Linked DNA regions of Homo sapiens: region 1 is linked to region 2. Evidence: fine-mapped expression QTL. Tissue or cell type: caudate. Region 2 holds a variant in brackets; the other region holds the start of a gene. All regions are shown on one strand. Distances are between the middles of the regions. Region 1 holds the start of SLC5A12 (solute carrier family 5 member 12). Region 2 overlaps SLC5A12 (solute carrier family 5 member 12).

Region 1 (16,676 bases), 48 kb before region 2:
GTATGTGTTTGAGGTTGATTTAATCTCATGGGCATTTGGGGCCTTTTCTTTCTTTGGTGACTAAAAGTAAGTGCATCAATACGTCAGGTTTACTGGCAGAAATCAGGGCATCCAAGCATATCAGCAGCAGTGTGTGGGTTTTCCTCCACCTGGATGGGAATGCTTGTGTGTGTGGGAGGGTGCTTTTCCACAGGATGTCATAGGATGAGTCCTTTCTTGATCTCAAGCATTTCTCCAGTGGAGACTTTGCCAGAGAGTGGGGGCTGGAGTATCAGAACATTCTGGAAACTTCTATGATAAGAAACAAAGTACCAATCACTGGCCTGAAAGTTAGCCTGAGGCAATTGCAGGAAGTCAGCCAAATTTATTCTCTGAATTTATTCCAGTGTCTGATACATCTCCCATCAAGAGAGAGTGACCATATGTCTTGGTTTTTGCTTAGGACAGTCTCAGTTTATGTCTCTGCTCAGTATTATAGCACGATCTTTTTTTCACTGTCAACGTGTCCCCAGTTAGGATGATGAATCATAAAAGATTACATCATACCACTATTTATAGATGACCCTCCTATCGTTGCAGCTCCACACTCCTACTAGAGTGTAGATATCTTGGGCATATACATCACGTTCCATTTACCTTTGCACACTTCCTCAGCATAAGCTTTTAATCTTTTACATAGCTTCCACTCAACAAATGCTTGTTCTAGTAAATCAGCATCAATATTAATATGGCCATAGTATAAAAAAAAGAAATCAACTGTTACTAGTAATATGTATGGATAAACTATTGTGTGGTAGACACTATGCTGAGCACTGATTTATGTTATCTTGGTACTCATAACTACTGTGTAAGGTAACATATTTTATAAAAGATAAAGCTCAGAGACACTAAGTAATCAGCCTAAATTTTATAGTTAGTAATAGAGCAGAAATGAAATTTACTTACATTTGATGTCCAAGCCCAAAATTCTATTATTCTTCCTGCCTTGCCCTAACTACATATGCCAAGTATCCTTACAGAATGCATTTACAGTTTATAATACATCATAGTATGGAAGCCTCAAAACATCCCCTCTAGGTAAATAATATCATCTTTATTTTAAGGTAAGGATTATGATGCTCAAAGGGTTTGTTTTTTTGCTTGTTTGTTTTGCTCGAGGTCAAAGCATACTTTTGCTTAAGTTTGCAGACTAGTAGTAGAACTGGACTCAAACTCAGTTTCTTTCACTTCAAATTCCACATTCTTTTGACCTGATATTAAAAAAAATACTCAAAGTGAGGAAAGAGACCAATCAGTGATATCCTTGGCCTCCTAATATTAGTTATGCCCTCCTCACCCTATCTCAACCCTCCTTTCTCAGGAAAGGATAGCTTTCTGAGGAAAGCTCAAAATACACAGCTTTTTAATTTACACTGATGATGACTTCTTAAAAAAAAAAACAGTGCATGTATTTGGCTCACAATATATTTTCTTCAGATTGTTATCAAAAGTAATTATGATTAAAAATCTCATCGTATTTCTCTCCTGATAAATATTTTTTTCTAATAAACCATGCTTTTCTCATTAGAAAAACCACAGCTATCCTAAACATCTCATAGACCTCAAGTGAAGTCTAATAATTTGAAAATATACTTAGCAGAGGCAAGAAGTGGGATTCTGAATTAGGAATGTAGTAGATAAACATAATCTCACCCATATAGGCAGTCCTACAAATAGTTATATTTAAAAACAAGTAGAAAATAGCTTCTCCAACCTGTGTTTGTCTCATGGAGGTACTGGTATTGTACACTTTCCCATTAATCTTTCTTTCTAATCCTCTAGAATTTTAAAATATACACAACGAGAACATTTCCAAATGTGCTTTCTTTACAGATTCTCCAAGTTCTGGTTTGTGATTTTCCATAACACTGTTGCTCCATAGGTGGACTGCAATAATGCTGACTAGGGAAAGCTTAAAACATTTGCAAAGTGGGCCATACTCTTGTTTCCACAGCATAAAAATAACTTGAAGTTAAACTTAGAAGATACAATGGCTGCAAATACCTACCAAGCTTGTCCAACTCACCTTATTTTGTTGTTATTGTTCTGTTTTGTTTTGTTTTAGGCTTTTAGCATGCTGAAGCCATGGTTTTTAGTTTCTGTCTCTAGTGATAAGTGGAAAAGAAGGATGAGGAAGGGGCTTTACTGACCTAATCAGAAACAGAAGCTAAGAACCCATGACTGTATTCTCTCTTTTAGACACCCCTGCATCACAAAACAAAGATGAAAAAAGATTTTTTTTCACACATTTGTAAGAACATTTGTAAGAATATTTCCACCCTAGGGTGCAAGGAGATCATCTGAAAAGATAGAAAGAAATGATGTAACAACACACAAAACAAGGGACTACATCAGTGCAATGAAATAGAGAGGATTTCCATAATCTAGACATTATACAGAATTTCTAGATATAGAATAGAGCAAATATCAAGGGAACTCCAAATCAGAAACTTGGCTTTTGTCCTCCTGGGTCAGGAAGTATTATAGGTGATAATATGGTAGCTTCTGTTTTACTTTCCTAGACTCTGTTCTTTCCAGAATAGCATTGGAAGTTGCAAATGTTGAAATGTGATAGACGCAATAACAATAGCATTTTTGAAATTCCTATGATATGCTTGCTTGTATGACGTAGTTGACACATATCTTTAATTCTCACAACAACCCCGTTAAAAGGGTCCCATTTCCATTTTAAAGATGAGTAGGCTAATTACCAAAGAAATGAAGTAACTTGTTCAAGGTGATAAAGTTGGCAAATGGCTAAGCAAAACTTTGAGCCTGGCTTTATCTGATTCATATGCCTTCAGTCTTCATTCTTAATAAGAGCTTCCACTTAATGAGCACCTAAGTACATATCAGTCAGTTGACATGTATCATTTCATTTAAGTTCATAAAATGTATCTGAAAACCATAAGCAGGGCCATCAAGAGCAACCTTCAATTTAAAAAAGAGCTATGCATAAAATAAAATAAATCCAAGCCACCCAGAAAGGGAGCTAAAAACTTTACATAGGATTTGTATAAGTATGCCTATAGTCAGAAAGGTAGGCTGGAAAGTTGTGCTAAATTATTCTGGTACCTTTCCACCTACCATGCTTTGTCTATGGATTAGGTATAATCCTGAGTTCCACGATGAAGAAACTTCAGCTCAAAGAGTTAAAGCAACTTTCCCCAAAGTCGGTAAATGGCTGAGCTGAAACTTGAATTCAGACTTGTCTGATTTTAATATGAGGAAAAGCATTTCACATTAATTGAAGTAATTTCTAAATAGGCACCTGAAAAGCTGAATTCTAATGGGAACTCCATTTATGAGTAATTTTCCATGCATCATGACCCCAAAACAAAACCTTCCAGGGCCTGGCAACTTAGTGAAGAAATCAAGGCTTTTCAGAATTTTCAGATATATGAACACACACAAACATCACTAAAATTCTGACCACTTGAAGAAGATGAATGACCTGAGGCTGGACCTTCATTATTATCAGCTTGATCACTTATAAAGAAGGATAGCAATGTCTTTGATTTGCCACTAAACACTTGAGAACGTAATTACTCGTATCATGGTAGTATCAAAAGAAAGTCTTGCAAAAATGTGTTGAACAGTAGTAACTATAGCGCATAGTTTTTTATCAGCGACTCAATTGGGTGATAATGTGCACCATATAAATGGGCTACATTTATTTATGTATTCCCAGTGATGACAAATATCCACTGGTTTTCAGTTTGGAAAATATGCAAAAGTCATTTATTCAGAGTGATACCTAGTGATGGGCCAAGGTGGCATAAAGAACACTGGAATTGCCAAGAAATGGAAGACTGAAGAGTTCCACTGGTAACTGATAGAATTGCCTCTGAGCTTGTGTGAAGTGTATTTCCAAAGAATTTGAGTAATAAAAATCACTCAATATTAAATCTTGTTTGAATTTAATTGAAGTTCCATTTGTTTATAAAGTATTTGAGAATTTCTTCCTTTTTTGAGGCCTATTCAAACGTCCTGTTTAAGTCCCTACAAGCCTGAACTAAATAAGACATCTTTCCCTTCATGCTTATTTAGCAAAATTGAGCCGATAGTAGATCATGCTGGTTTTCCCCTTTGCCATTCTACAATGGAGTGGATGATTGAGATCCATGAGACAATTAGCTAAGGACCTTGAACCTCACGCTCAGTTGCCCTCCCAGCTGAATATTCTGCTTAAATGTTCTACTTGTTTACTGTGGAATGGTGCTGGCATTAGTCTGTTTTAATATTAAATAATGTTCTCTGCTGACCTTTCTAAGTGGACTCTGAAATTTGCCTCCTAAAAGTTTGAGTCAACATCTCTTTTCACATTTGTTAAGTGTCTGTAGAATATGTGAATAAATGATTAGCCACAGTCACATTTAGTTACAATGAATTACAGGAATCGGATAGGATGGAATATAAATTCAGTTTTTATTTTCATGGAAACATGTTTGTGAATAGATAAATATTTCAATCTAAATAAAAGCTTGAAAAACTTAGGTTTTTTTTTCAGTAAAAGAGGAATTAAACATAAATTGTAAACATGGAAGAGACTCCTAGAATTCACGTAATTTATTTTAATTTATTGAGTGTCTACTATGGGATAGGAACTTCTAGATGCTAAGAGTACATCGGAGAGTAAAATAGACAAAGTCCTTTAGGGGCTTACATTCCAGTAGAGGGATGCTAACATTTAAAATATATAGTATATTAGTAAAGGATACATTTCTTGGAGAAAATTTACAGCTGTGAAGGGAGATTTTGAGTGTTAGGGTTTGCAATTTAAATAGGGTGGTCAAGGAAGGTGACATTTGAGCAGACTTGAAAAGGTAATTTAATTACTTACGTTGATTTAATTATCTTGCTATTAATCTGATATATTCTCATTTTTACAAATGCGGCCACTAAGAATCAGAGAAATTAAGTGATATGTCCAAAATCACAAGATACCTTAGTAAGAGACTGTAAAAAGAGACTTGGTCTTTTGTTGGGGCTAAAGAATGTTTTCCACTTAACACAAATAGCCTTGGAGGGCAAACATTTTTCTAATAAGGGTATTTGAATGAAAGTGGAGTGGCAAATCCTCAACTCAAATTCTTCAACCTTCCAGCATTCTCAGATTACCTTTCCCTTTGAGAGATAGAGAGGGAGAAGAAGGAAGGAAGGAAGGAAGGAAGGAAGGAAGGAAGGAAGGAAGGAAGGAAGGAAGGAAGGAAGGAAGAAGGAAGGAAGGAGAGAAAAGAGGAAGAGAAAAAAGAAAAATAAAGAAAAGAAAGCTCAACCTTCTGACTTTGGTAGAATCGAATACCAAGTGGTCTTTTCCTCTTCAACCTCAAGACTGTAAAGATCCCAGGAGATCTTTCTCCAATTTCTGTTTCTGCTGTATTCTCTACGTCCTTTGTGAGTTTTACCTCCTCTAACAGTTATCCATCTCTACCACCATTTTGAGCCTAAAGTGGAACACAAACTTCTTTCCCTTTAATTTAATGATAAAATACAATACAATGTCAATGATGTAGCAAGTTTTCCCTAAACACTGGGAGTAAAGAAGGAATTTATCCCCCAGCACAGCACAACAAAAAATATTTAATATGAGTTATTCCCATTATTAAAATCTCATCAGCTCTTCCTTACAATGGGATATTTTTTGAGAAACGTCCGTGCCACCAGCCAGATTTTTGTGCCACTTCTTTGTCTTCACTCCTATGACAAGTCTCCAATATCATTCCCATGGACTAAAAAGAAAAAAAAAATTAAAGGTCTGTTTATTCGCAAGCAGAGTTCTTTTATCTTCCCCACCTGCTCATCAGATCAACTCTTTCTATATTCATAAAGATATCAGCCAATCAAGAAGCCGCTGTTGTAGGCCATATCTTTTATAGCTTACAGGAAGAGGAGAACTTCTGGATTTGCAGTCTTTTGTCTTTTATGATAAAATTATTGGACATGGTTTTTTCCCTATCAATCTCTGTAAGCAGAAGTAAGCATTATATTGAATTATCCTCTTCAGGATAGGAATTACTCAATTCCTCCTGGAAGGAGGCAATGGCCACAGTTGCTTTGCAGTTTGTTTTTTTAACCCATAATTTCTGTTAAAGTATAGTTTGGCATCACCAATTTGCCTCCCAGGAATTTGTTTGATAGGCATGCTCATTGAGAGAAAGCTCTATGGGGAGGACTACTTTCACTATCTCAATTAAGCAGCTTATTCACATTGTGAGGAATTCTTTGAGCCATCCTTAATATTCATTGGACTGAAATATGTAAAAATTATTATAATAATTTTTCTGAAACATAGTTTTAATCTTGCCACTTCCTAGTTTAAAATAAAAACAGGGCCGGGTGCGGTGGCTCACGCCTGTAATCCCAGCACTTTGGGAGGCCAAGGCGGGCGGATCACGAGGTCAGGAGATCGAGACCATCCTGGCTAACATGGTGAAACCCCGTCTATACTAAAAATACAAAAAATTAGCTGGGTGTGGTGGCAGGCGCCTGTAGTCCCAGCTGCTCGGGAGGCTGAGGTCGGAGAATGCTGTGAACCCGGGGGCGGAGCTGGCAGTGAGCTGAGATCGAGCCACTGCACGCTAGCCTGGCCGACAGAGTGAGACTCTGTCTCAAAAAAATAAAAAAAAATGAAATAAAAAATAAAAATAGAGCAAAATAATAGCCATTTTATTCTTGTACACCACTCCTACTCCCATTGGCTTTGAGAACAGATGAAGGAAGACACCAATTTAGTGAAAGTCTAGTCTCAAATGACCAAGGCTTGTTCATGTGCATTTTCTTCTCTTTGATCCCAGGCCAAAATAACCATGGTGTGCAGAGTTCACTCTTAGCAACATTGCAACAATGGTGTTTTTTGTTTTGTTTTGTTTTGTTTTGTTTTGTTTTGTTTTGTTTTTAATGCCCCATTTCTTCCAGTTCTTTACCTTTTTCTCTTTTGGTAGCATTTGATATCATCAAACTCTTTCTTTCCCATTACAACTTGTTGCATGCAAATTGCTGAACTATTTTACCTTGCGGAGACTACTAATGTTAGCAATTACAAATTTAACTTGTTAAGCATGTGAGTAATTGAGTAGCAGGACCTTGTTAAGGCCATGTATGAGTAACAGGTGATGGTGTTTATATTCTGACAGGGTCTCAAGCCTTACACTAAATGAGTCAAATACAAATGGCAGTATTCTGTGCACATGAGAGAGGGTAGAGGCGCTACAGGGATTTCTTCAGGTCGAAGAAGCATATTTTCCCTCCTTCTCGCTATATTAACATTTCTGATATAGAAATGTGCCTTCTAATTAATGAGGTCATTGAATGTACTGGGGTTTTTTTTTTTTCACCTGAAAAGTTATGAATTGCTGCTGTGCTTTACAATCTGCATGAACTTTGCATGGAGTGAGTCTTTATGGAATTAAGAAGAGCGTTTGAGGACAACGAATGCTACCAAAGGGAGAAAAGGGTAAATATGTAGAAAATAACTGAAAATTAAATTACTGAATTGATGCTGTGCCTTATAATCAACAAAATGTTGAAAGCAAGGAATACTTTCCTAAGAGGCATAAAGGTTTCTTCATATCCCAGGTATTAACCAATCTGCTCCCTACCACTTCAAAATTCAAGACTAATTGGAGTCATGCAGATAATACTGTTACTACACAAAGTTTAATTAAAACCATCAGTACTCATTAACTCTTTTGTTATAGGTTTCTAGTATGTACCTTTAGAAAGTTATTGATGATAATGTTTTGAACCATTCTTAACCTGACTTATACAAGGGGATTACATGTTTTATAGATTGAATATTAACCATTAGGTAGTGTAAATATTAAACTATAAAGGAGTCAAGTTTCTGAAAGCTAAAAAAGTTCTGATTTTCTGCTGAGATCACAACAAAAACCTCATATATAATTGGAATACTTCATGATACAAATAATTAAAAGCCCAGGTTAAGGTAAATATATTAAAGACCAAGATTTGCAGTAACATTTATCATATCAAATCTCCAAATCTAGTGGAGGAATTTAAACAGAGGACACAGACAGCTCTTGGGAGAGTCTTCATATTTTTATTGGTAACTAAAAGCATACTTTAGCTATCTAATTAAACCTTTCTTTGGTCTAATTCAAATTCATGAAGCAAAGATTTATTCAGTTATCCAGATGTGAAAAGCAAAATTAGAGCGTTTTTTGTTTTATTGTTTGGCTGGAAATGTTTCTGTCTTTGGGCATTATGGATAATTTTAGTTTTCTCCTTTCTAAAAATTATTTTTTTTATTTTCTACAATGGCTATAATGTATTGGGTATATGGACTAGAGCTTTGCTTCTGTCTTCAAGGAAATGTCATTTGAACAGCTGACAGACTCCTGTAGCCGGTTACATAGAGATTCCCTAAAATAGGCAAGATGATGGCTGAGTACAAAATGAGTACTAGGGAGGCTACGTTCTACAGGAGTTGACGTGGAGAGGCAGAAAAGCTTCACAGAGTAGAGAAAACTCATACTAGATCTTGTAGAATACACAAGCTTTGTAGAGGTGGGGATGGAGAAGGCCACTGAAGAAGGAGGAGAAGCATGAACAAAATTAGAAATTGCACTAGAGGTACTTTGGAACAATTGACAGAGTCTAAAGAGAGCAGAAACAGGAATTTATAACTGGATTGTTACCTTCCTTCTCTAATTTGTCCTGGTCCTAATTCTAACTTAGCCTGTGGGTACAGTGATAGTAACCTGGTGAAAATAAGAGAAAGACAAGATAAAGTTGAAGGCTATAAATAATTTATTAATTAATGGCAAATTGATTTTTCTAGGTCCTAGAATAAAGAAAGAAAAGCTATGATGTTCCAGAGTGCTCTGCTGTAAGCACAGATAATAGCCAATGGGGTACATATTATTACCTTTCATTTTACAGATCAAGACAAAGAGAGTCAGGAAGTTTAAGACTTAAGTCTTTAAAGACCTTGTAAGGTCTTATTATCCCTGTGTTCCAGGTGAAGTTCAGAAATGTTAAATGATTTATGAAATGTTTCATGGCTTTCTCGTGGTTGAGCCAGGACTCGAGCAAAGGTCTCTGAATTCCTAGTCCTTTGCTTCTTTCTCTCCACATCCACTGCCTCAGACAATTGCAGGCACACAGCCTTCACTCTCCCTTCTTCAAGAGGAAGACACTGCTGAGGATTGTGTTTGCATTTTACAGATTCCATCTCACGAATTAAAAATGCTGAGGTGGTAAATTGTTATCAATTCTATGTTTCCCAGAAATGTTTAACCTTAAGTTAAAAAAAATCTAAGAGATAAAACAGCATGTTATCTGGCCAGTCCATTCCACCCCCAGTGGTTATTAATTTCAGAACACATCTGAATTCCTTCTCTGTGGCATATGCTTTAGGAGAGGAGCAGACAGCTCTTAGCTAGGGTCAGATTTCAAATTCTCATCTCTTGGTGCCAATACCACCACCAGATTCTTCTTTGAAGTCAACTTTTGAGATCTTCACTAAGTACACGTTGGTGTCTGAAGATTCACACGAGTGCCTCTGGTAATCATTTTCTTCAGGGAATCACAGTCTCTCCTCTCAGCAAAGCATCCACTGTACTGAACTTTGCTTTTGGAAACATCTTCTTCCTGAGACCTCGTTGAAAGAAACTCTCTGGTGTCATACTTTCCAATATGGAGGTGAAGAACTTTGCAGTTTGGGATTATGTTGTATTTGCAGCCCTCTTTTTCATTTCCTCTGGAATTGGGGTGTTCTTTGCCATTAAGGAGAGAAAAAAGGCAACTTCCCGAGAGTTCCTGGTTGGGGGAAGGCAAATGAGCTTTGGCCCTGTCGGCTTGTCTCTGACAGCCAGCTTCATGTCAGCTGTCACGGTCCTGGGGACCCCTTCTGAAGTCTACCGCTTTGGGGCATCCTTCCTAGTCTTCTTCATTGCTTACCTATTTGTCATCCTCTTAACATCAGAGCTCTTTCTCCCTGTGTTCTACAGATCTGGTATCACCAGCACTTATGAGGTAAGATGATTTCTCCATTCTTCTCTAATTTTTTTTTCTCATCCTCTTGATGATAGCACCTGGTAGTTGAAGAACACTCACTGATTTTCAGGATAATTACACATTATGAGAAAGACATTAAAATGTTTTTGTAAAAAGCCTAAGCTTTGGAGACAGACATATCTATTTTCCCATCTGTAGAAGGAAAATAATGATGACAATCCCACAGGGCTATTTTAATGATCAAATGAGAACCTCTATGTGAGCACTTAATGTATGGCCTCATTTGTAGGAGGTTTGCAATAAAGAGGGCTGATGTTATTTTTTATTATTGTGAACGTCATCATTCTGAAAAGCAAACAGAACATTTCTCATGAGTACGGCAATTTTCCAGCTAAGAAAACTGAGATACAGATAAATGACTTAGTTAAGATTTTTGAATAGTAAAGTGACCTGAGAACCTAATTTTTTCTGTATCTCTACTTAGTGGCCTTTCCGTCAGAGAGTAGAGGGCATTTTAATACAAATTATAATAAGACTAATTTTTAATGAGGAAATGGAAACATTTTTGAAAAGTACAAAACATTTTAACGAAAGGAATTGCTAAATAATACAAATATGGGAATTATTTAATGTGAGGGAAATGAGGCAGTGGTGTTTTGGCTTTACAATGATTCTCAATGAAGACATCATGTTCAAAATTGAATTTGCATGCTCTATATAGAAATGTGATCAAACATAAGTTTCTATTAATAAGGTATTTATTTTCATTATCCAATATCATTCCTAAAGTCACTGCAGGAGACTGAAAAGAGACCTATTTTTTTTTAAATATGTAAGCTATATGAGTATAAAACATTATTCTAGCCTTCAAAAGTCACTCAGGCAAATGAACACTTTTTAGGAAGTCTTAAAAAGTGTTATTGATTCCATAGTTTTATGTAATGTAATTTTTATGACTATTCACTCAGTAAATACTCATTAAGCATCTACTCTTAAGATACTTAAAAAGGCACTCTTCTTTTTTTCCATGTATTTATTTACTTATTTATTTATTTATTTATTTATTTATGAGATGGGGCTTTTGCTATGTTTCCCAGGCCGTTCTCAAACTCCTGGGCTCAAGTGATTCTCCTGAATCAACCTCCCAAGTAGCTGGGACTACAGAAGTTTGCCACCACACCCAGCTTGTTCTAGGCATTCTCGTAGCCCTAGGCATAAAGCATTGCACCAAGTTCCTGCTGTCATGGAGCTTACTTCATAGCAGAGAAGGGCAGTCAATAAACATATACTGTGTAAGAAAATCATAATACAAATATATATGGTATTTAACTATGTGCTAAGTACTTCTCTAAGTTCCTTATGTGTGTTAAGTCTTTTGGCCTTAAAACAATCTTTTTTAGACAGGTACTGTCACCTCCTTTTAACAGACTAGAAAACTGAGGCATATAGAATTAAGTAACTTGCTAAGTGACATAAAGCTAGCAAGTAACAGTTTTTCAAACCAGGCAGTCTAACTTTAGATATCATATGCTAAATAACTATGCTGTCCTGTCCTACAAAAACAAATGGAGAAAAAGTAAAGTAAATAGGATGAGATAGAGAGGAGGAATGCTGGTATGAGTAGAGAATGTCCATATTCATAGAGGGTGATCATATGAAACTTCAAGTAAAATAAGACGTCTAAATGGAGACTGGAAGAAAGCAAATAATTGCACCAGACAAGGGAAGTGCATCTCAGGCTGAAGTAGTCACAGATGCAAAGGCCCTAGAAAAGGAGTGTGACTGGCATGTTGAAGGACAGCAAAGAAATCAGTGTGCTTGGAGAGGAGAGAGCAAAGGGGACAATGGTAAAAGATAAGATCAAAGAGATGGGAGTGCCCAGTTATATACAGCAGGGGTCTCAGTGGAGCTAGTGCCACACAGAGGGAGCACTTGGGATATTTGTAGGATATTTGGTTGTCACAATGATTAGGAGTCACTACTGATGTTTAGGGAGTTGAGGGCAGAGACATCAGATGTCTTTCAGTGTGTAAAGGCACATATACAATGAGTAATTTCACTCTGCACTGCATGATATTTTAATGCCGTAATGCTCAAAAACTACTGCACATATTAGTATTACCTTAGTGCACAGTAACTTTACAATAAAAAGTTATACACACACTATAAATTAGCACATTTTCCAGAAATTAAATGAAATAAAAACACTGTCTTAAAATTATTGAACAATTTACTTACTTTGAACAATCTGTCTATTCCATATGTGCTGCTCATTACATGCTTAGCCATAACTGGTTTTAGTAAAATGGCCTAGTTACTGCAAAAACAACTAAACCAATTGCAATTATGTAACTGAGGAGATTTGATTCTCTTTTTAAATTAATAAATTAGTACAAGTATTGAAAATATAAGGACTTCATTGAATTTAATTTACTAAATTGTTTTTAAAATATTTACTATTTTTGCCTCTACATATTTTCAACTTTTTAGTGACCTAATAGTAAGTAATCCAGAGTGTGTAAAGTAGATATAAGGTTATTTTGGGATTACCTCTTGCTTTATAAAAATTGGCATTATGGCATGCAAGTTAAAAGTATGGACTCTAGGCCAGGCGTGGTGGCTCACGTCTGTAATCCCAGCATTTTGGGAGGCTGAGTTGGGTGGATCACCTGAGGTCAGGAGTTCGAGACCAGCCTGGCCAACATGGAGAAACTCCATCTCTACTAAACAACACACACACACACACACACACACACACACACACACACACACAAAATTAGCCAGGCATGGTGGCGCACATGTAATCCCAGCTACTCGAGAGGCTGAGGCACGAGAATCACTTGAACCTGGGAGGTTGCAGTGAACTGCCGAGATCCACTGCACTCCAACCTGGGCAACAGAGTGAGACTCTGTCTTTAAAAAAATAAAATAAAAAAGACTATGGACTCTAAAGTCTGTTGACTTGGCTTTCAGTGTCAGCTCTGCCACTTGCTAGCTGCATGACCTTGGCGTAAATTACTTAACTTTTATATACCTGGTTTTCACATGTGTAAAATAGTGGTAATAAAAACATCTATCTCAAAGGATGTCTGTGAGGAGTAAATGATTTATTGTATACAAATACTTTTAACAGAGCCTGGCAAATAGTAAATACTATGTAAGAGTGTTGCATTATTATGATCATTGTTGTTGCTATCTTCAAATTTATACCACTTAATCTGTCTATAGTATCTGGAGTTTCTGTTTCTTTCTTCAGCCTCCATTCTCTAGTAGTTATTGAAAGGTATGCTTTCTAGGGTCTTTTTAAATACTAAAGACTGAAAGAGGTGGAGTCTCTTTATCCACCCTGTGAACTTTGGCCAGTTTTGTGACTTGCTTTGACCAGCAGAATGTAGCCAAAGTGATGTTCTGTGAGCTTGGAGCCTAGGCCTTCTGAGCCTTGTAGCTTCTGCCTTTGTCCTCTTGGAATGCTGCCCTGATACTGCTATGTAAGGAAGGTGGCATAGCTGATCTAGCTTCAGGAGCAGCAGTGGACACATAGAGAACAGAGACACCTAGCCAACAGCCAATACAAGTTACCAGACCTGTGAGTGAGGCCATGTCAGACCTCTCTCCATTGATCTTCCAAGTTACTGAAGCTACATGAAAGTCCTGATGAAACCAGAGAGATCACCCAGCCTGACCTCAGAGTTATGAGAAATAATAAATTTTTGGTTTTTGAGCCAATGAGTTTGGAGGCGAGTGTTATATAGCAATAGCCAACTGATTTAAATGCCTTGATATGCAGTGGGATTTCAAGACTAAGATATGCCATCTGTGCTACTTTATCACTACCCTGTCACAAGTCAATGTATAGGGAATTCTTCTCACCCTCAAGTGATAATTTAGGCTTAGCTAGTTTGCAATATCATATATTTTCATTATCTCAATTGTACAGTTTGTTATTAGTCTCATAATATTATCTTCACTTTAAAGTTATTTCCTTCCTTCTCTTATCATACACTCATAAATCTAGTTTGCTATTATTTACCTAATTTAATATTGGCTTATAGGCCAATGTCTACCTGTTCTCTCATATTTCTTGGACTTCTTGGCTTCTGAACTACTTACTTCTCTTCAATTTCAAATTTTCTTTATGATAATGCCCGGGCTACTATTTCACTGTGTTTTCTTGTACAGTGGTTTCTGAGCATTTATACATTACATACTTTTTTTAGGTAAATGCTTTCCTTTTAGTTCTCCTTCAAATAACAGTGGTGGTATTGTTAGTAATTATATTTATATTTTGAGAAATTCAATGTTTATCTATAAGATATTATTGAATACTATTTCAGCAGAGTGAACGGTGCTATATAATATTTGTTGTAAAAGAGATATTTAGGGTCTGAACCAACGTTATGGGGCCTTTTAGGTCATCATAGGGATTAGCTTTTACTCTAGAAATGATGGGTCATTACAGTGTTTGGGAAGGGAAGTGACATGATGGGATTTGTATGTTAAGAGGATTACTCTAGCTAGATATTAAGAATAATTTTAGGGCTTTTACTGCTGAAGCGGGGAGGTAATTGGGAGTTTCCTTACATAATCTGAGCAAGAGATGATAGTAATAGGGTTGTAAGAGAGGATGAATGCAAGTAAATATGTTTTGAAAGTGGGGGGCAAGCACCCAGATTTCTTTTATGAATTGGATGTGGGGAGGGAGAGAGAGGAGTAAAGGCTGGCTCTATGTTATTTGGGCTCGAACCAACCTGAAAAGTAGAGTTGGTATTTCCTGAGATGGAAAAGAGTATGGCTGGATCAAGTTTGGGGTTCTGAAAATAATCCATCATAATGTTGGTAAATGTCACCTCAGGTATTTTTACAAGCAGGCATGAAGCATGCAACTTCTCTGTTGTATTTTTACTTTTGACAATAGGAATAGCTTATATATACACCAAAGGTGACCACTGAATGAATGAGTGAATACATTGAAAGGAAAAGTGGATAAATTCTTTCAGATATAGAATTATGCAGTTGCAGTAGTCTTTCTTCTTTCACAGATGAGAATCCTGAAGCACAGATCACAGAGTGAGATGCCAGCAAATCTCAAACTGGAATTCAAGGAGGCTGATTTCTGATCAGGTCTTTATTCATATAGCTTTTCCCTAGTACTGTCTTTGTAATTTTACTGGGTTGAGTGGAACTTAACTGAAATGCGAAAACCATTGATTTTTTTCAAGATCCCTATAGCAATAGCCTCGTGGCTTTACTGGTTTTCAGGATTCGTTGCCCCTTATGTTTTCCAGACTTCCTTGTGCCACCCAGTACCAAAGCTAATGCTACATATTTTTGGTTTTTGTTACACCTCCCCACTTCTAGTGCCAATCTTTGTATTCATGATTATCTATTGCTATGTAGCATACTACTCCAAAATAAATGTCTCAAAATAACAATTTTAGTTTTTCACAATTCTGCAGATTAACAATTTTGCCTGGCTCAGATGGGCCCCATAAAATTGTGCTGGTCTCACTTGGGACCATCTATGTGACTTCCATAAGGTAGCTAGTTGGCTAGCAGCTTGCTGGCCTAGGGGAATGCAAATGAGACAGCTTGTCCTTGTTACCTTTAGTCTCATCCTCCTGTAGGCTAACCTGAGTTCTTCATGTGATAGAAAAGAGTTCCTCTCAGAAAGAGAACACACCTCATTACAGAAGCATTTTCAAAATTTGTACTTGCAATATATTTACTAGAAATGTCTCTGTCTTAAGTTGCATTCTACTAGAAGCAGATCCTGAAACAAGGATTTGAATGCAAGTTGATTTGGGGGAAGTGATTCTAGTAAGCAGTGATAGACAAGTGGCAACGTGAAACAGAAGAAAAAGATGCCAATTAAAAATGTAATTTTGAGCAGGTTACCACTGTGAACAACTGGGGTTCAATCCAACTGGGGATCTCTAAGAGACAATATAAAGTGCGTCTCAGGGTTGTCCTCACTGAAAGGCAAAAAGCCAGGGTATTTTGTTCCAACCCCATTTAGTAATTGGCTGAGTGCCAATGATAACACCCTCAAGCCTTCTGATCTGCCCTATGGCCCTGTGCAAAGGCTCAGAACACTCTCAAGCAGATAATCTCAGGCACATTTAGATGCCATCAACATGTACTGGAACAGGGAATGCCAATAAACTATGGGTGTTGCACCCTCAGAGACCACAGCAGTCATTAAATCCTACTATAGCCCTAGCTCTGTACCTGGCATTATCATACTTCCCACCATCTGATCCATACAACATCCACTTTCAGAAGAGAAAATCATGGCTTAGTGGCAGAAAATAGTCTTCCCAAGGGCACAAGATGTGAACCCAAGGTGTCTTCACCACAGACATTTCAGTGTTTTCTACCTTATGATATTTGTGACTGCTGACTCCTCACTGACTTCCCTTCCTCTGTAATATTTTCCTTATGTCTGATGCCCTCATTCACATATTCACCGGACTATACATTCTGGCTCACAGAATATATCATCTGAAGAGAGGACCTGAAAATAAGGTGGTTTTCTACCTCAGGTTTGGGAGAATCTGGCAGGATAAATTGAGAATGTGAGTTAGTATAAAATGGAGTCACAGTTCTGCCAAGAGATGTCCTTTGCTTCAAAGAAGGGCCAATTGTAAGCCATGAAA
Region 2 (16,676 bases):
AAATCAAGATGAATAATTATTTGGAAAAATAACATAACAATATTTTTAAAACATTTATAATAGCAGGATTTTCTCAGTCTAACAAAATTGCCATCTTTCAATTATTGCCATGTGCACACTTACATGCATGTATTTTGAGAAAGTCTTTTGATTCCAGAAAGCTTGACTTTACACTTATTAATGTATATACTATAGGATATTCCATAAAGTCTGTGTCAGATAGTATACTTGATTAGGTCTCTGTGGCTACCTGACCCTTATTGACCTTTCTCTTAGATAAATCCTGTGGGGCTAAGTAAAGGAGATTGATGGGTAGCGAGCATTCGGGTCTTTGCAGCACTTCCCAAGCAGTCTTAATCACTTGTCTGATATTGGGGTTGACAAGAATATTATGTCTTTGGGGAGATAATGTGAGGGAAGACAATATCCTAGCCACAAAAAATATGAGCTAACTACATAAGATTTTAGTGCACTGTTAACATTGATTTATTATCTATGTTAGTACATTGTAGTTTTTTCTATTTGGTCAGGAAAACCACCTTGATTTCTCTTAATGAAATCACCTTGTCATTTTGGGCAGCCATTGGGGCCCTCATTTACCCTGCACCAGCCTCTAAGACATGGCCTTTGCCTAGATATTTAATAAAGTATAGTAAATATTATAAATTTGTGTCACCTCTCCCCTCATCAATGGCCATAGCTGATCCTACTAACCAATCATGGCTCTCCTTCCCATAGAATGTGGCTACACCTTCAGAATCTGTCTCAACATGGCTCTCCAGCTAGCCATTATAGATCAACCAGGGTTAACCCTCCAGTTGAAATCCATTTTCCACTTACTGGTAGGCCAGGGGTCAGCAAACGATATGCCTCAAGCCAAATCTAGCTGGCCCCCTGTGTTTGGTATGGCTTCAAGCTAGAAATGGTTTTGACATTTTTTAAATGGTTGGGAAAAAAGTCAAAAGAAGAATAATATTTTCTGGCACAAAAATATTACATAAAATTCCAATTTCAGTGCCCATAAATAAAATTTTACTAAAAACACAGCCAGGCTCTTCTGCTTGGGTATTGTCTATAGTTGCTTACATGCCATAAGAGAACTGAGTTGTTGTGACAGATACTGCATGGCTTACAAAGCCTAAAATATTTATTGTCTGACTGTTATATTAGAAATTTTCAGATCACTTGTTTAGACCAAGGCACAAGTATTCAAATCACACACACTGATTAAATTTCTTCAAACAATAATGGAGAAAGTATTCTGGAACTCTTACCAAGGCCTCTTCTATTTTTTTCTGATTAACTAGAGAAGCCAACAGGTTTCTTTTCTCTGACTCAGAAGGCTCAGTTTCCTAGCAGTGACCAGAAACATCAGATTATATTCTCTAGTGGTCCTAATCTCTGCTAGATTGTTCTGCCTCCTCTACAAGAAAAGTGATTCTTTGACTTTTCACTATTTATCAAGAAATATAAACCTTAAATGACAAGACCATTAAATGCACTTGCTAGTATTCATACTCAAACAAAAAAACTCAGAACTAGGGAGTCAGGGGACTCTGCTGGTTACTTAGGAAGAGAGATAGGAGTAATAATTTCTGTATAAAAGCTGTCAATAACTAAAAATGACCTAGTATTTGAAGTTTTCCTTAACTTCTGAAAGTCTTCTAATGAGAATTGAGGTTTCAGCAGCTTTTTAAGTAGTAAGAGAAAGAAACCCTAAGGAGAAAAATAATTATTGCTAGAAATCTAAATATAATGATCACCATGAAATTATCTGATGTCTTCATTTAAAGAACAAGTCACTCCTTAATAAACCTGCATTATGGGAGTTGAGGTGAAGGCAGTTTGAGCAGAGTGTTTCTGAAATATGTGGCCAAGATTTGGGATGGAAAGCCAGAATCTCTAAGGCATAGAACTCCTCATCTCATTATTCTTTCCATAGACAGCTTTGCCAAATTTCCCATTAACCTTTTTCTTCTTCATCCAGGGTGCACTAGGAGGTCTTCTTACTGGAATCACCTTGTCATTTTGGGTGGCCATTGGGGCCTTCATTTACCCTGCACCAGCCTCTAAGACATGGCCTTTGCCTCTGTCAACAGACCAATGTATCAAATCAAATGTGACAGCAACAGGGCCTCCAGTACTATCCAGCAGGTATGCTGACTTTATAGATGGTGCTAAGTCCCAGAGAGTGGGTCACCTGGTAAGAGGGAGGTGCACTCTTCAGAGATAAGTGTGATGAGACATATCTTGTTCTCTTATGAGACTCACTCAGGGAAGTACCCAGCACTGAAGAGTGCCACGCAGGGCTGCAGCTTTCTGCAGATGTCCATTCCTCTGTATTCAGACATACAAAAACCAATTTGGTGAAAGAGTTAATGCGAGATATGAGTACAAAAGAGAAAAAATAGTGGAGGGTTCAAAGACAGGTGACTGGGTATGAGGAACATGGTTTCCTCAAAGAATAAAACTCAGTAGAAGAAGTTTGTGAGCAATGAGGATAATGCTTATGGGCAAGCTGAGTTAGGAGCACCGCTGTGAACCTATGGCTTCTAAACCAAACAATATGAACACAGGGTTTAACAAAGGATTTCCCTTTGTACTTCTGGCTGGGGTAAGTGATCAAATATATCAAAATACATCAGATACTATGGTGTAGAGAGACGATTGTGGACTTTGAAATCTGAAATATTTGGGTTTGGATTTTGGTTTTATAATTTATTCCCTCTGTATCTTTGGACAAGTTAGTAAGTTGTAACTTCTTGAATTCTCAGAGCCCTTGATGGAAAAATGAGGAAATATATATATATATATGAATATATATACATATATATATGAATATATATACATATATATATGAATATATATACATATATATATGAATATATATACATATATATATATGAATATATATACATATATATAAAGTAGCACTACACGTGACTTTAATAAATGTTCACTCTCACATTCTAATTGTATGTAAGAGCAAGTCTAGAAAATATAGGATTTGTGTTATTTGTGTATCCTCAAAAGTACTTCATTTTTAGTAGCCCTTTTCTGATTATCATCAATATCTCCCCATACTGGCTCATTCCCTCTGAGTCCAGGCTTCTCAAACTGGCCAGATAATGTGGCAAATTGCATTCATGAAAGTCTCTCTCGGTCCGGCATATCTTCTCCTCTCCATTGTCCTTGTCAATCTTGAGGCTAGTCTTGTCTTTACAAAGTCCAGAAAAGTGAAATTATCTTATTTGTATTTTTTATTTCCTCCATTTTTCTATCTCTTTTCCTTTCTAATACAACCCATTCTATCCAAGCATCACTAGATTTATTTTTTCTGAAGCACCTTTCTGAACTCATTACTACCACATGGAGATGACTTAAATGATTCATGTGCTTATGGAATAAAACACAACCTTTTTATCCTGGAGCTAAATACCTGCCAAACTTAAAACTTTCCTGTGGTTTTAATGTTATTAACTATTGTTTTCCTTCTACTCTGAATTCTGTTTCTTCTCGTCTACCTATGCTTATCCCACTCTTTCCTACATTTGGGTCCTTAAGCTATTCCCTTTACATGAATATATTTTAGTGTTCATTTCCACTCTCCTAAAATCTGTTTATCTTTCAAGAGCCATACTAGTGTCTCCTATTCCTCCATAAAGTTCATTTTGACTCAGGTTCCAAATGGGCACTCCATTATTTTGCTTCCATTTGTCTTTGAGTTTCATTTTCTTTCCATAAATTTTATATCGAAGAATTTCAACCTATTCATGGTTCCCCATAAACCATGTTGATTCTTCCCTCCTGCCTATACTTACTGTATTCTCTTCTTAGAATGCTAATTCCTGGCCCTGACTACCCTCTTTGCTTGATTAACTACTAATTATTCTTTCAAAATGAGCTGAGGTATCATCTCACGCATTGGTCTGAATTTGATACTACTCTGAAGGCTGCCATAGTATTTTATACCTTTTCTACTGAGGCAAAACCAACCCATTTTATGATTGTCTATTAGCTCCTGTATGTAGACTTTGTGACTTTCTCATCTTTATATCACTAATGCTTGTCACAATTACTAGCACTAAATCTGGGCTTAATAAAAGTCTGAAGAATAAATAATACAAATGAAATTGTATTATTTGTATTAAGACACAATCCTCATTGTAATACTTATGATTCAGTATCAACATCGTTATATTTGTAATTCAGGAATGAATTGAATTGAGTGGAATACAAAGCACATCTTCTCTAAATATAATTTTTTAAATGACAAAAAGTTATGATTTAGGCTTTTGAGATGCCAGGCCCTAAAATGAATCCTGAGCAGTCCTCTACATCACTGTGGGTCTTTAGGATGCATGGAATTGGTGACATGTGCTGTTCTCCACAGACCTGGAATAGCTGATACCTGGTACTCGATCTCCTACCTTTACTACAGTGCAGTGGGCTGCTTAGGATGCATTGTTGCTGGAGTAATCATCAGCCTCATAACAGGTTGGTTATAATTCCTCCCTTTGGGACTAAAGAAGATATGGGCTCATGCATGCATTGGTGGACTGGCTGTCTGTCTTATTGCTTTGAATTCACGTTTCCCACAAAAACCCTTCTTCCCACAGAGATGTCTACTCTCTCAACGCTGACATACAAAGGCACCCTTCATTATTATATACCTGACTATTAATATATAAAACATATATTCACGGGAGGCTGAGGCAGGAGAATCGCTTGAACCCAGAAGGTGGAGGTTGCAGTGAGCTGAGATGGTGCCATTGCACTCCAGCTTGGGCAACAGAGCAAGGCTCCGTCTCAAAAAACCAAAAAAAACCCCAACCAAACAAAAAAACATATATTCAAACATTTCCCATATATTATTTAAAAAAAGATGCTTTGACACATGCCCCCCAGAGGCCTGAGTATGAAAAACCCTCTGTAATATAACAATCAGTAAATAAGGTTAAATATTCAGAGTGGTTCTTTTCCCTTCATCCCAGTAAGAGACAAGATTTTTGTCATCACCATCTTACTATCTCATGAAGTCAGCCTTTGCTAACTTACTAGAAAAGCAAAACACTGTTGTTTTTGCCTATGTTGTCCTTTGGAGGCTGCTTCTCTAGGGTCGTGGAGTTCTCTGCAGTGAGCAGCTTCACTGTAAGCCATTTTTAGCAAAGTGTCTACCATCCATACTTGCCCTTTTGATGTATTAATGTCCTTTTTGTTTCAAAGCCCATGAGGGGTTGGTAGTGGTGAGAGTGTGGGAGATAATGGGGTGGAATAAGTTCACTGTACTCTTGTCCCTCCACCTCCTTGGAGTATGTATTTTAGCTAAAAAATTTTAAGGTATTCTATTTTTCCATGACTATTATATACCAATGAACAATGGCCAACATTCTGACTCAACACAAAACCTGAATGGCAACATTTCTGGTGACTGTGTACTAGAGATGTTATATTGAAGCTCCAATGCCCTATTGTTCTGTGCATGATGTCACTAGCCATTCACTGAAATTTAAGAAGATCTTGGCTATGATAAAGAATAGACTATAAATCTTGTAACCCCAGTCTTTCACATAATAACAACTCTCTCAATGTCTTTATGTAAATGGTTTCAGGCAAAAGATTGTTTATTCATTTTGTTTAGATTTTGCCTTAGTACCCTGACATCTGTAACTCCTTCCTTGATGCTAGTGGGATATACCTAGACATTTCAGTTTAGTGATCGGTCACCACTAAGAAGACAACCAAGATTTCAGCTGCCTGAACATTTCCTTCTAAATCAGGAAATGTGTACACATGAAATCCAGTAGTTTGCCAGTCCATATTTTCCATGTGTGCACCAGAATTAGCATGCTCTTATGTTGATACAGCAGCACTTATATTAAATTTGATTGAAAATTCTTACACATTTTCAGCATGAATAACTCTTCCAGTATTAATCCCTTTGTTTTCTTTTTCTCCAAATAAGCCAGGTCTTAGTCAAATGCCCTTCAGGCCAAAAGCGAACACTCTAACAAAGTCTAATTATGCCTTCAAACATTTGGAAAAATTTTTGAACATGACCACCAGATGTTCTTGCCTCCTGGTCCCTGTCTTCCAAATGAGGCCTTAGGGCTAGCCTGATAACCTCAGGTCTGCTCACTAAGAGGCTTTAACAAATCTTCTGTAATACCCACTGAATCTTTTAAAAAGTCTTACAATGTTTAAATGTAGAATAGGGTCAGTAAGGAAGGACAGAGGCCTTTTGTGGGCCTGTTCTCCTTGTGTCATATTTTATCTTGGTCTTGTTTGGTCTTAATAGGTGATGTCTTCAATTATACTTCTTCCAGATAAAATACGGCACCTCGAAGATATGCTGTTTATGTTACTCATACATGTTGACACATAGAATCATGTCTGTGTTGATTAGCAACTCCAGGAAGTTTATATCATTAATCATTTTGTGCATCAGCTGCTGAAAGATCTTGGCCTAAGATACACTTTAAATTCTTAATTATTACTGATAAAATTCTGCTGGATGGCTGAAAGTTATTTTTTAATTTTTCCATTTTAGATATGTGAAATGAAAATATCATTTCCTAAATCAAGAACAAATACCATTGTTGGTGTATCAAGTGGCCAAAACATCCCATTATCAGGACAGTATATAGAGATTGATGCTACTCTGTTTTTCAGTGTACAGTAGTTTATATTTATCTGAATCTTACTATATTTTTCTCATTTACCATAAAGCTGCATGTCTCAGATATAAAATCTTTAGTTATCAATCTATTATTTTATATTTTAGATTATGTTTCCGTACTAAGGTTAAATCTGGCCTACTACCTGTTTTCTTTTTTTTTTTTTTTTTTTGTTTTCTAGAAACAGAGCTTGCCCATTTATTTGCTTTTAACTATGGTTGATTTCACTCTACAAAGGCAGAGTTGAGTAGTGGCAACAAAGATCCTCTGGTTAGCAATGCCTAAAATATTTACAATCTATCTCTTAACATAAAAAAGTAATCTTTGTATTAGATAATTAATCTCATCAGAGAAATTTACTGGACTAGTTTATAAATTGTCAGGAATTGTGCAGCTCTGTATAACGATGAGAGACAGATCAAAAATATTCTAGCTTTCAGTTTGCTGTGGTGAAATCTGATACCATTCTAATTTCTGATTCTTGTGTGTAATCTACCTTATTTCAGTCTCTCTCTCCTCTTTGTCACACACACACAGACAGAGGTACATACACACACACACAGATACATGCACACACACACACAGATAGATACACACACACTCATGCCATTCTTTCTGTTGCAAGTTTATAGACCATCTCTTTATTCCTAGGTTTCTGAAATTTTATGCCCTTTCCACTCCTAATCTGACTTTCCTAACTTCCAACTTAAGCCTATGTCTTATACTCAGGACTTCTGCTGAGAGTTTTGGGGCTTGTGCCCAGTAGAGGGACCATGTGGGGAATGGATTCTAGGTTGCATTCTGCTCATGGAGTCAGTACCTTGGCATAGAGTTGGTTCTGCTCAGAGGAAGGGGAACTTTCCTCAAAACCACCCCAGGTTACTATACATCTAGAGACATTTCCTCTATAAGCATGAACTTTCTTTTCCTTAGGATAAACCTACTTGTCTACAGGATATGATCTCATCCCCTTTGACCTTCTCTTTTCTCACCTAGTATGTCTACAGTCCTGTAGTCTCTTGACGAACTTGGTTTCAACCAATTTTCTCAGCAGTCCACTGATGCTCAATCCCCAAGGTCTTGCTCATGAAAGAGATGATAAATCCACGATTGAAGGCAAACACAGAGCTTCTGGTTTGAGAATTTGAGTTTCATTTTCATTTTTAACTTTCCTACCTGTGAGAATTATAGCCCTATACTTTGCTTTACCATCTGCTATCTCCCAAAGGGAATACTGTCTTTTTCTAGAAGAAAACAGAATCTAAATCCATATGAAGCAGAGTCCTGTCCTTCTTAGCAAATCTCAGGACCTGCTCTTAAGAGACAATAGATCTACATCATTTGTTGGAGTGTTTGATGATTTTGTGGTTCATTCAGAGACAAAACTCTTCTCTGTTTGAAACCCTGGAAATGGCTTTGTCCCAAATTAAATTATTCTGATTCAGAGATGCCCTTGGATAGAAGTTTGAGGTTTTGCAACTCCTCCTCAGCCACTCACACATACGCACACATTAAGGCAAATGGAGCGTTACAGAGTGTGAGATCACATATGTTTAACTAAATGTATACTTCATCATTTATTAGCTTCTAGAAAAGTTCACCATTTCCTCATCCATGAAATGAGAATAACAATACTTACCTATTTATAGGGATTAGTGATAATCTATGTAAAATGTGTTCAGTATGTAGAATACACTGACTAATTGATAAATATTATTATCAACAGTAGTAGAATTCTATGTGGCCAAATGTCTTTTGACATAGTGATGTAAATGCCAGGGAATAGATTGCTTAAGCCTCAATTTAGATTTTTAAAAATCCACATTTTGGGCCAGGCATAGTGGCTAACATCTATAATCACAGCACTTTGGGAGGCTGAGGTGGGCAGATCACCTGAGGTCAGGAGTTTGAGACCAGCTTGGCCAACATGGTGAAATCCCATCTCTACAAAAAGAATGCAAAAAATTAGCCGGGCATGGTAGTTCGTGCCTGTAGTCCCAGCTACTCCAGAGGCTGAGGCAGGAGAATCACTTGAACCCGGGAGACGGAGGTTGCATTGAGCCGAGATCATGCCACTGCATTCCAGCCTGGGCAATAGCATGAGA[C/G]TCTGTCTCATACAAAAAACAAACAAATCTACATTTTTTTATTTTTTTTGTCTCTAGAAAGCAGTTTGAGAAAAAGTTTGTGGATGGTCACAGTATCTGGCACTTAAAAGAAATTTGATCAACAGTGTAACCACTACTCCACTCCTCCCTCTAGGGATCTTTACACTACACTGACTATGGGACTAATAACTATCCTTGAATGATATTGGGTATTAGTGAATAGTCTTTATGACTTAAAATTTGCATAAGTTCTGGGAGGAGCAAAATCATTGGCCTTTACATCTTGGTTTGAATATCAATTTGACTCTTGTTCCACAGCAGGATTTGAAGAAATAGGACATTGAACAGGTATGTTTCAAGGAAGGGAAAAGGAGGGTGTGAGGCATGAGGAGGTGTGAGGAATGCTTAAAGTACCTGGGAGGAACATGAGGGTATTGCTTGTTCAGGATGTTAGGGTGAAAGAAAAGAAGGAACAATAAAAATACTCTTTCTAATTTTACAAATACTGACTTAGATGATCTCAAATATTAATATATCTGGTTTGGATAAAAAGTCAAGAGCTTTTTTAAAGGAAGAAATTGCATAATTACTGCTATCCCCTCTGTTGGCCAAAGAAGGTTACTAGTAGCATTTTCTATAATAGATATTTAAAAATAAATAGGTTGTCTCTGTTTAACTCTACAGTCATGAGTCTACCTGACCTGACAATTTGTTGATGTTTAAAAACGAACTCCCACCCCTTTCAGCAGTTAACCAATTTCTGTTTATTAACCACTCAATCTTGTTTTCACTCTTATTCTAAAAAGCAACCTACTTTTCAAGTTGACAATGTTTAAATCTGTAAAGGAAGACATGGAGGCCTGCAACCATCTAATCTATTTGTTCTTTTGTTAATAGGTCGCCAAAGAGGTGAGGATATTCAACCACTGTTAATTAGACCAGTTTGTAATTTATTTTGCTTTTGGTCTAAGAAGTACAAAACACTATGCTGGTGTGGAGTTCAGCATGACAGTGGGACAGAGCAGGTGAGCTGATGTTTGAGCTTCTAAAAATGTGTATGGACTCAAAGGGATTCCTGGTTTTGCCCATTTAAACCGGCTGCAAAGATGCACTGGAAAGGGAAAGCAGTGAGTGTGAGAACTTGAAGGAATTTGAGTTTCAGCTTCAGAGTTATCTCAGCTAATCAGCTTTTAAGCACATAAATATGTTGATAGGTAAAAGTGCCTTGTAGCTGAATTACTGGCATTGCAGGTGGTCAGTTTTCAAACTGTTTTAACCCCTGTGAAGGTGAATTCTAGGAAGACATAAAAGTGAATAATAGAAAAGGAACAAATTGAAGACACATTCTCCTATAATAGTTCAAAGCATGGACTTTAGCGTCAGACAGTCCTGGGATTAATCCTGGTTCCATGTCCTACATTCTTTGGGTAAATTATTTAACTCCTCAACTCCAGCTTTTCTGATCTAAAAACTGGATGAGTAAGGGGGGTATTATACAGAGCAACATGGACACAAGCATTTCCAGTTCTATGGGATATAAACGTAAAGCAAGGTCATGGTGGGAATGTACAGGCAAAGACGCAGCAAGATGCACCTAACTCTCTAACTCCCTAGCTCTCTTTATTCTGGGAAAAAGAAGTGTGTTTAGATCAGGCAGTACTAGAGACACTGTCCAAGTTCTATTAAGGTTTCATCAGCCAAAGACCACCAGAAAGAGCCTGTAGTTAGACAAAATTGGACTTACTGACTTGATGCAGCAAGGTGGGGTACTTCAGAGGAATCGGGGAATGCCACCCTCAACAAGAGGGAGGAAGAACATGTCTTTTGTAAGGTTTGGGTTCCCACTGAAGGATTCTTAAAGGGGTCTATGGGAAGCAGAAAATGACCACAAAGCTATCTGGGGCAGCATTGGTAAGAGTGCAATGGTCACTCAAAGGGTTGTTACAGCATTTGATGACTGCCAGACCTTGGCAGCAGCTGACCTTATCAGTGTCTGTCTTCCCAGCTTGATTAAGGGCAGGAGTATTTTTTGTTGTTGTTGTGTTTTTCTTTTTAGTTTAAACTTATATTCACTTTTAGTCCCAGACATTTTATTCTTTTACGATTTTAGGAGAGGGAAGCCTAACCCATATCATGGCAAATATTTCTGAGTTGTCCATTGCTCTTATCTCCAGAAAACAGCAGAATAGCATGTATATCACCTAAAGCTGAGTTTATTACTTTTGGCAGGAGGCAAGAGCACCACGTTTACAGAGAGGCTCAGAATACAGAAGTTAGGTGCAGACATGTATAGAATTCTGAGCTTAAGTGACTTAAGGTAGATCTTTCAATTCAGGGTTCTTATTGGAACTGGGCAAAACTGTGTTGTGAGAATTTAAAATTGGAAAACATAGCCAGGTGAGGGTCCTAAAGTCAGTTTTGATAATTGAACAGTGGCTTGATAAGCAAGGAGTTTGCTTCATTGAACAATCTATACTTTTGAGAAAAGGGCTGTTTACCCAGATGAGCAATTTATTTTGCTGAGAAGGCAGCTGGTTAAGCAGCCTATTGTTTGTATAAATGAATTTTGAGGAAGTTCTAGAAGCAACGGATCAAGTTATTTGTTGGTTTGCAGACTCAGGAAGATAGAATTTCCTGGAATAAATAATAAACTTAATTAATGCAGGCAGCCAGCTTCTGTTCTCAAGGATAAGTTGAAAGGGAGGGGACACTCCTTGTGTCACTACTGGGCTCCTTTGCCAAAAAATAATGTTGAGCAGCATCCAGGGGAGTTTGTGCATAGGTGTCCCTGTTTTTATCAGCAGACTCTCCTATTCCCAGGTAGGAAGGGGGCCATCCCCATATGAGATACAGGTATGTTTCTCCTTATAAGGTAATACTACTACCTCACAGGATTGCTGGGTTAAATGAGAGGTATATAAATTTCTTCATGCAACACGAGACATACTGTAAATGCTCAATAAATTGTTCTTTTTGCTGTTATTATCATTAGAAATAGTACCTTACGTGGATTATCAAAGTTATCAATTAGAAAATGTCTTAGGTCAGAGTTGTTTATGCTTCTTTTGTACATATATATAATTTTTTGAAGCCAAGGCCTAAACAAGATTCTCTCAGGTTAATTTGGAGTACATCAAGGATATCTTGCTAATATGTGTCTTTGTATTTCCCTCAGGAAAACCTTGAGAATGGCAGTGCCCGGAAACAGGGGGCTGAATCTGTCTTACAGAACGGACTCAGAAGAGAAAGCCTGGTACATGTTCCAGGCTATGATCCTAAGGACAAAAGCTACAACAATATGGCATTTGAGACTACCCATTTCTAAGGCAATACCTGTATGAATGCACACACACACGTGCAATACACACACACACACACAAACTCCACATACTTCTTGCCTACTTGTTAGTAGATATGTATAGTTGCCATTGCTAGAAGACAGGGATGTCTGGTGCCTATTTCTACTTATTTATAACTACATGCAAAATGACTGTCTCTCGGGATATTCTTTGAAAGACTCCAACTTTCACAGAGAAAAACCAACCTGCTCCAAATGCCCTTGACTACTTCCTTCTTGAATAAATTAGGGCTGGATTTCATTACCATTCAAGAAAGCGAAGTCTTTTTGCTTGGTGTCATATTAAACTTCAGGTTTTTCGTTTTAGTAGTTTTTTAACCATCAAAATATCTTGGAGTTTAGAGGCAGAACGGGAAACAGAAATATGCATATTTAACACTTTCCTGCCACGAGGGATAAAATAGAGGAATGACATCCACCCCTGACCTCATACCTGACATACATGTAGATATATTTTATGCCACCCATCTCCCATCCTGTAGCTACAATTGGCATACAACTACTATTAACCTCCCTTCACCACCACTGTCAGGTCCTCTTCCAGTCATTCCAGTCATTAGCTGTCCTGACCAAACATTAAAAAAAAAATTCAGCTAAATACAGAAGAAGATGGTATGTCTGGCTAGTGGGAGTGATTATAACTAAAAACTTTGCTCCTTTTGTGCTGTCCATGCAGTATGTCTTCTTCCTTTCTATCACTTTACAATGAAAAATTGCCTCAGAGCTCAATAAGAAGTCTAGAGCCTTTTTCCAGGGCTAAGGAAAGAGAAAAGGAATGTCCTATAGAAGGTTGTTAGGATAGAATTTGGTAAAAGAACGTTGCAAATATTGTAACAGACCATAGGAGATTTCATCAGCAATAGGATTCTTCTTTGGAGAAAATACATTGTCCATAAGACTTGTACTCTGCTCATTCAACTCATGTGAGCAAGCTCAACTCACTCCACCTGGGTTAGGTAACAGAAGTGGAGAACTTCATAGTTCGTGTCTAGAAAATAATGTTTAAAGTTCTGGAGAATGAGGGTATTGCAGATTAAAAGGCGAGTTGACAAATGAAGGAGCAGTGAAAGATTTTTGGAAGAAGTGAAGAAGTGAAATTCTGAAAAGGTAAAAGAAAGAACCAGTATGTCACAGGGGCCAAGTCAGAGGACAGATAATAAGAAACAAAGTTGTATCTGAGAGTCATATATTAGGACAGGTGTCAGATATTTATTTTGGTGGCCAGATAAAAGCAAAAGGCCTAGAAACAGTGTGTTAGCAAAGTAAGAAGAAATGGTCCAAATAGGCAAGGATAAGGAAATCCAAAGGTTGTCTTTAAATATTTCTCAAAAGAGAAAGCCTTGAAAGAAGCATACAATAGAGAAAAAATAAATTACCAGTATTTATTATTAGAAAAGATAGAAAGACAGACAAATCAGTGGAGGAATTAAAACAGAGAAACTGGAGTTTATAAAACAGAGCCCAATCCTTGCCTTCTCTCCCTCCACTCAAATAGAAAAGGAGAATGGAGAAAGAGAAAGAAGGTATTAGGCTACAGTTTATAAGAGAGATGAGAAAAAAATACATTTGGGAATAGAGGGAAAGGGTCAAAAGGGGTCACATTTGGAGAAATATCTGAAAATGAGAAGGAGCAGAATTTTTGGAAACATTTTTTAAAGTCTGGCAACGCTAATTAAGCTGTTGATCTAAGGATTTGCAAATTGAGAGGTGCAATTATTTTCCAAATGATTTGTGACACTCTTATTAATTAGAATATATATTTTGTGAATATTGAAATCTGAGCCAAAACTAGTTAGCTTTATTAATATCTTAGGGAAAGAAGAGAGAAAGAAAGAGGGAGGGAGAGAGAGAAAGAAAGAAAGAAAGAAAGAAAGAAAGAAAAGAAGAAAGAAAGAAAGAAAAAGACAGGAAGAGGAAGAGAGAGACAGAAAGAATAAAAAAACAGCAATTCTGAGGATGAGAATAAATTAATGGTAGGTATTACATATGCATATACATATATATATCTGTACACATATATATGTAAATATGATTTGGAATACATCAGGATTGTGAACTTCCACTTGGGATAGCATAAAAGCAAAATATACCATACAATTTTTCATTTTACTCACAAATTTTACTCACAAATTCTCCTAAAGACATTTCACTAGGTCAGTACATTTCCGAGAAAGTTTTAAAAACGTTTCTTCTTTTATAGTCCCTAATTATCTTACCTGGAGTGTTATCAAAATGTCATACAACTGGAAAATGCAATTATTATTATAAAAATATCTCTGCCTTCTCTTGTGTAATGAAATTTATGGCATTAGGAGATGACATTTCAAGAGATTTTAGAGGTCAATGTAGAGACTCCCCCCATTCTTCTTAATTGAACAAACATGCATAAATCTAGGGTTTCAGGTAGAGAGCAGATGGGAATCTACAGGAAACTGTCTTCCATAGTGTATGAAAACCGTGTTTGTTGTGTGGTGAAGCAAAAGGAAACTATGAAGCGCACAGTCAATAGATTCAGCTAGTGAGTCCCAGCACTCCTTTCAGGCCCTCACTAGGATTAGCAGCCCAGAGTCATGCCAAGGCCACTGGTGCAGTACAAAGACAGTTCAGTGACAAGTTCCATCCATACCATGGAAGAGGGTTAAACTTGTGGCTGTTTTTGCCACAGCATGACCAGAGACATTCTCAATAAATGGCACTAGGAATGATGAGTTTTAGAGGGGCCTAAAATGTTCCAAACTTGATACTCACCACTGTACCTTTAAAGCACAACCACAGATATTGGTAAAAATGGAACAGAATTACCTCAATACCTCTTTAACTCATTCTGTATGAATTCATTTTGATGACAGACATTTTTTGTCACCATTTGGAATAAGAACTACAACAGCTTATGATTGAGGTGAGGAACTGCAGTCAAATGGCTTAGGTTCAAACACGAGTTCTGACACAAATCTAGGTAATTTTGGGCAATATTTTAAAATCTTAGTTTATTCACCAATTAATAGGAGTAAAAATTACCCCTACTTAATAGAATTATTATGAAGATTTATATAAGTAAATCATATAAAGTGCTTAGCACAGTGTGACTGGCCCACATGGAACATTTAATACTTGGTCTGCAGTATATGAAGAAAATGGTGTACATGTTAACTTAAATGGTTTCATTATTTCTCTTCAGGATTTTTAAGATGTGGGATCAGAATATATGTTACTATTTTGAGAATTAGAAATAATAAGAAAAACAGAATGTATACATTAAAAGTCATGCCTAAATTTCCAAAGAGTAGTTTTTTTAATGCCAGAGTTTAAATAAAATATTATTTTCCAGAGAGTAACTTTTCTAAAGGTCCTAAATTCTGAAAAGAGAGAAAACTACTGTTATAAACAAGTTTATTACTAAAAGATGCAATTCATTACTATGATTTATTATTATTTTGTACATGTAAACCTTGATAAATAAACAGCATCTCAACCCAAGTTTATTACTCATTGCACAGTTCAAAGCAACTATGACTCTCAAAATAGCAACAGAAGGTGGGGAGGGTCTTTTCCCTTTGTTTATATAGTATTTGCTAAAAATGAACTTTACTATTTTGTGGCTTTATAGGGTTACACCATTTCATTCTAAAGAGAAACAAAAAGTAAACCATTGGCCATGTGGCTTTCAAACAGTATTTCAAAGAGAATATTACTGAAATATTTTTGTGCTGTTACAGTCTTAATCAAACATTATTACAAAGATCAGATACGGAAAAAATAGAGGAGTCTCCCCTTAATTGTTCCCTTTGAAATAAATTGTTTTAAATTATTACAGAAGTTATAGCTGTATGTACATGCACATTTGTATATTTACAAGTCTCATGTACTTAATCTCAATATTGCAAATTAGCTAGGTTTACTATAGAGTTAACTGCTTTTATCTAGCATTTATAATCTTGTAGTATAACCTATTTTCAAATAACTAAAATTTAATTGATGTCATCAATGGTACACATGAAAATGATACAAATTTATAAACTAATAAAATGTAACTCGTCATTGATAGTAAATTACTAATGGGTAGATTTTATTGGTAATTCTTGGAAACAGATAATATCATTGTTTCCTCTCCCACCCCAATCTCCTGAGTAAATCAATGTAGATTTGCAAATACTCATGTGAATAACAAACATGCACAAGCCCATTTTTCCAATATTATACTTTGGTGTTTCAAATATTAGCCATCTTCAGAAGACAAAGAGTTAAGCTCATAAGTATGTAACTTCTTAATCACAACATGACCCTTTCTTGAAGTGTCAGGCTGTCATCATAAATTAGAAAAATAATCTTACCCTGTGGAGCAAGATGTTCATTGATAATGATATTTCAGTACATCGATAGGACATTTAATGTGATATTTTTGTATTTTCAAAATCTTTTGCAGCTTTTTAATTTCAGAATCCTAGAATACATCTAAATCTAATGTTGTTTATACAACTAGTTAAGATTAGGAAAAATGCCTATAAACAAGTATAGGTATATAATTTATATATAATT

What was found. PIP is the estimated chance that this variant, and not a neighbour inherited with it, causes the effect.
Region 1: SLC5A12 starts here. The variant in region 2 is the best candidate, but not a certain one, in a credible set for the expression of SLC5A12 in caudate (GTEx, PIP 0.51).

The regions. Positions count from the first base shown.
Region 1 is chr11:26,714,738-26,731,413 of GRCh38, reverse strand. SLC5A12 (solute carrier family 5 member 12) reads left to right here and starts at 9,354. Exons shown (of 15, transcript NM_178498.4): 1 at 9,354-10,038. The coding sequence starts at 9,700.
Region 2 is chr11:26,666,533-26,683,208 of GRCh38, reverse strand. It overlaps SLC5A12 (solute carrier family 5 member 12), which reads left to right. Exons shown (of 15, transcript NM_178498.4): 12 at 1,988-2,154; 13 at 4,394-4,497; 14 at 9,680-9,807; 15 at 11,958-16,189. The coding sequence ends at 12,107. Among named protein-coding and RNA genes, the nearest start is that of SLC5A12, 47 kb to the left of the region's middle. The variant C/G (reference allele first, on the strand shown) is at 8,783.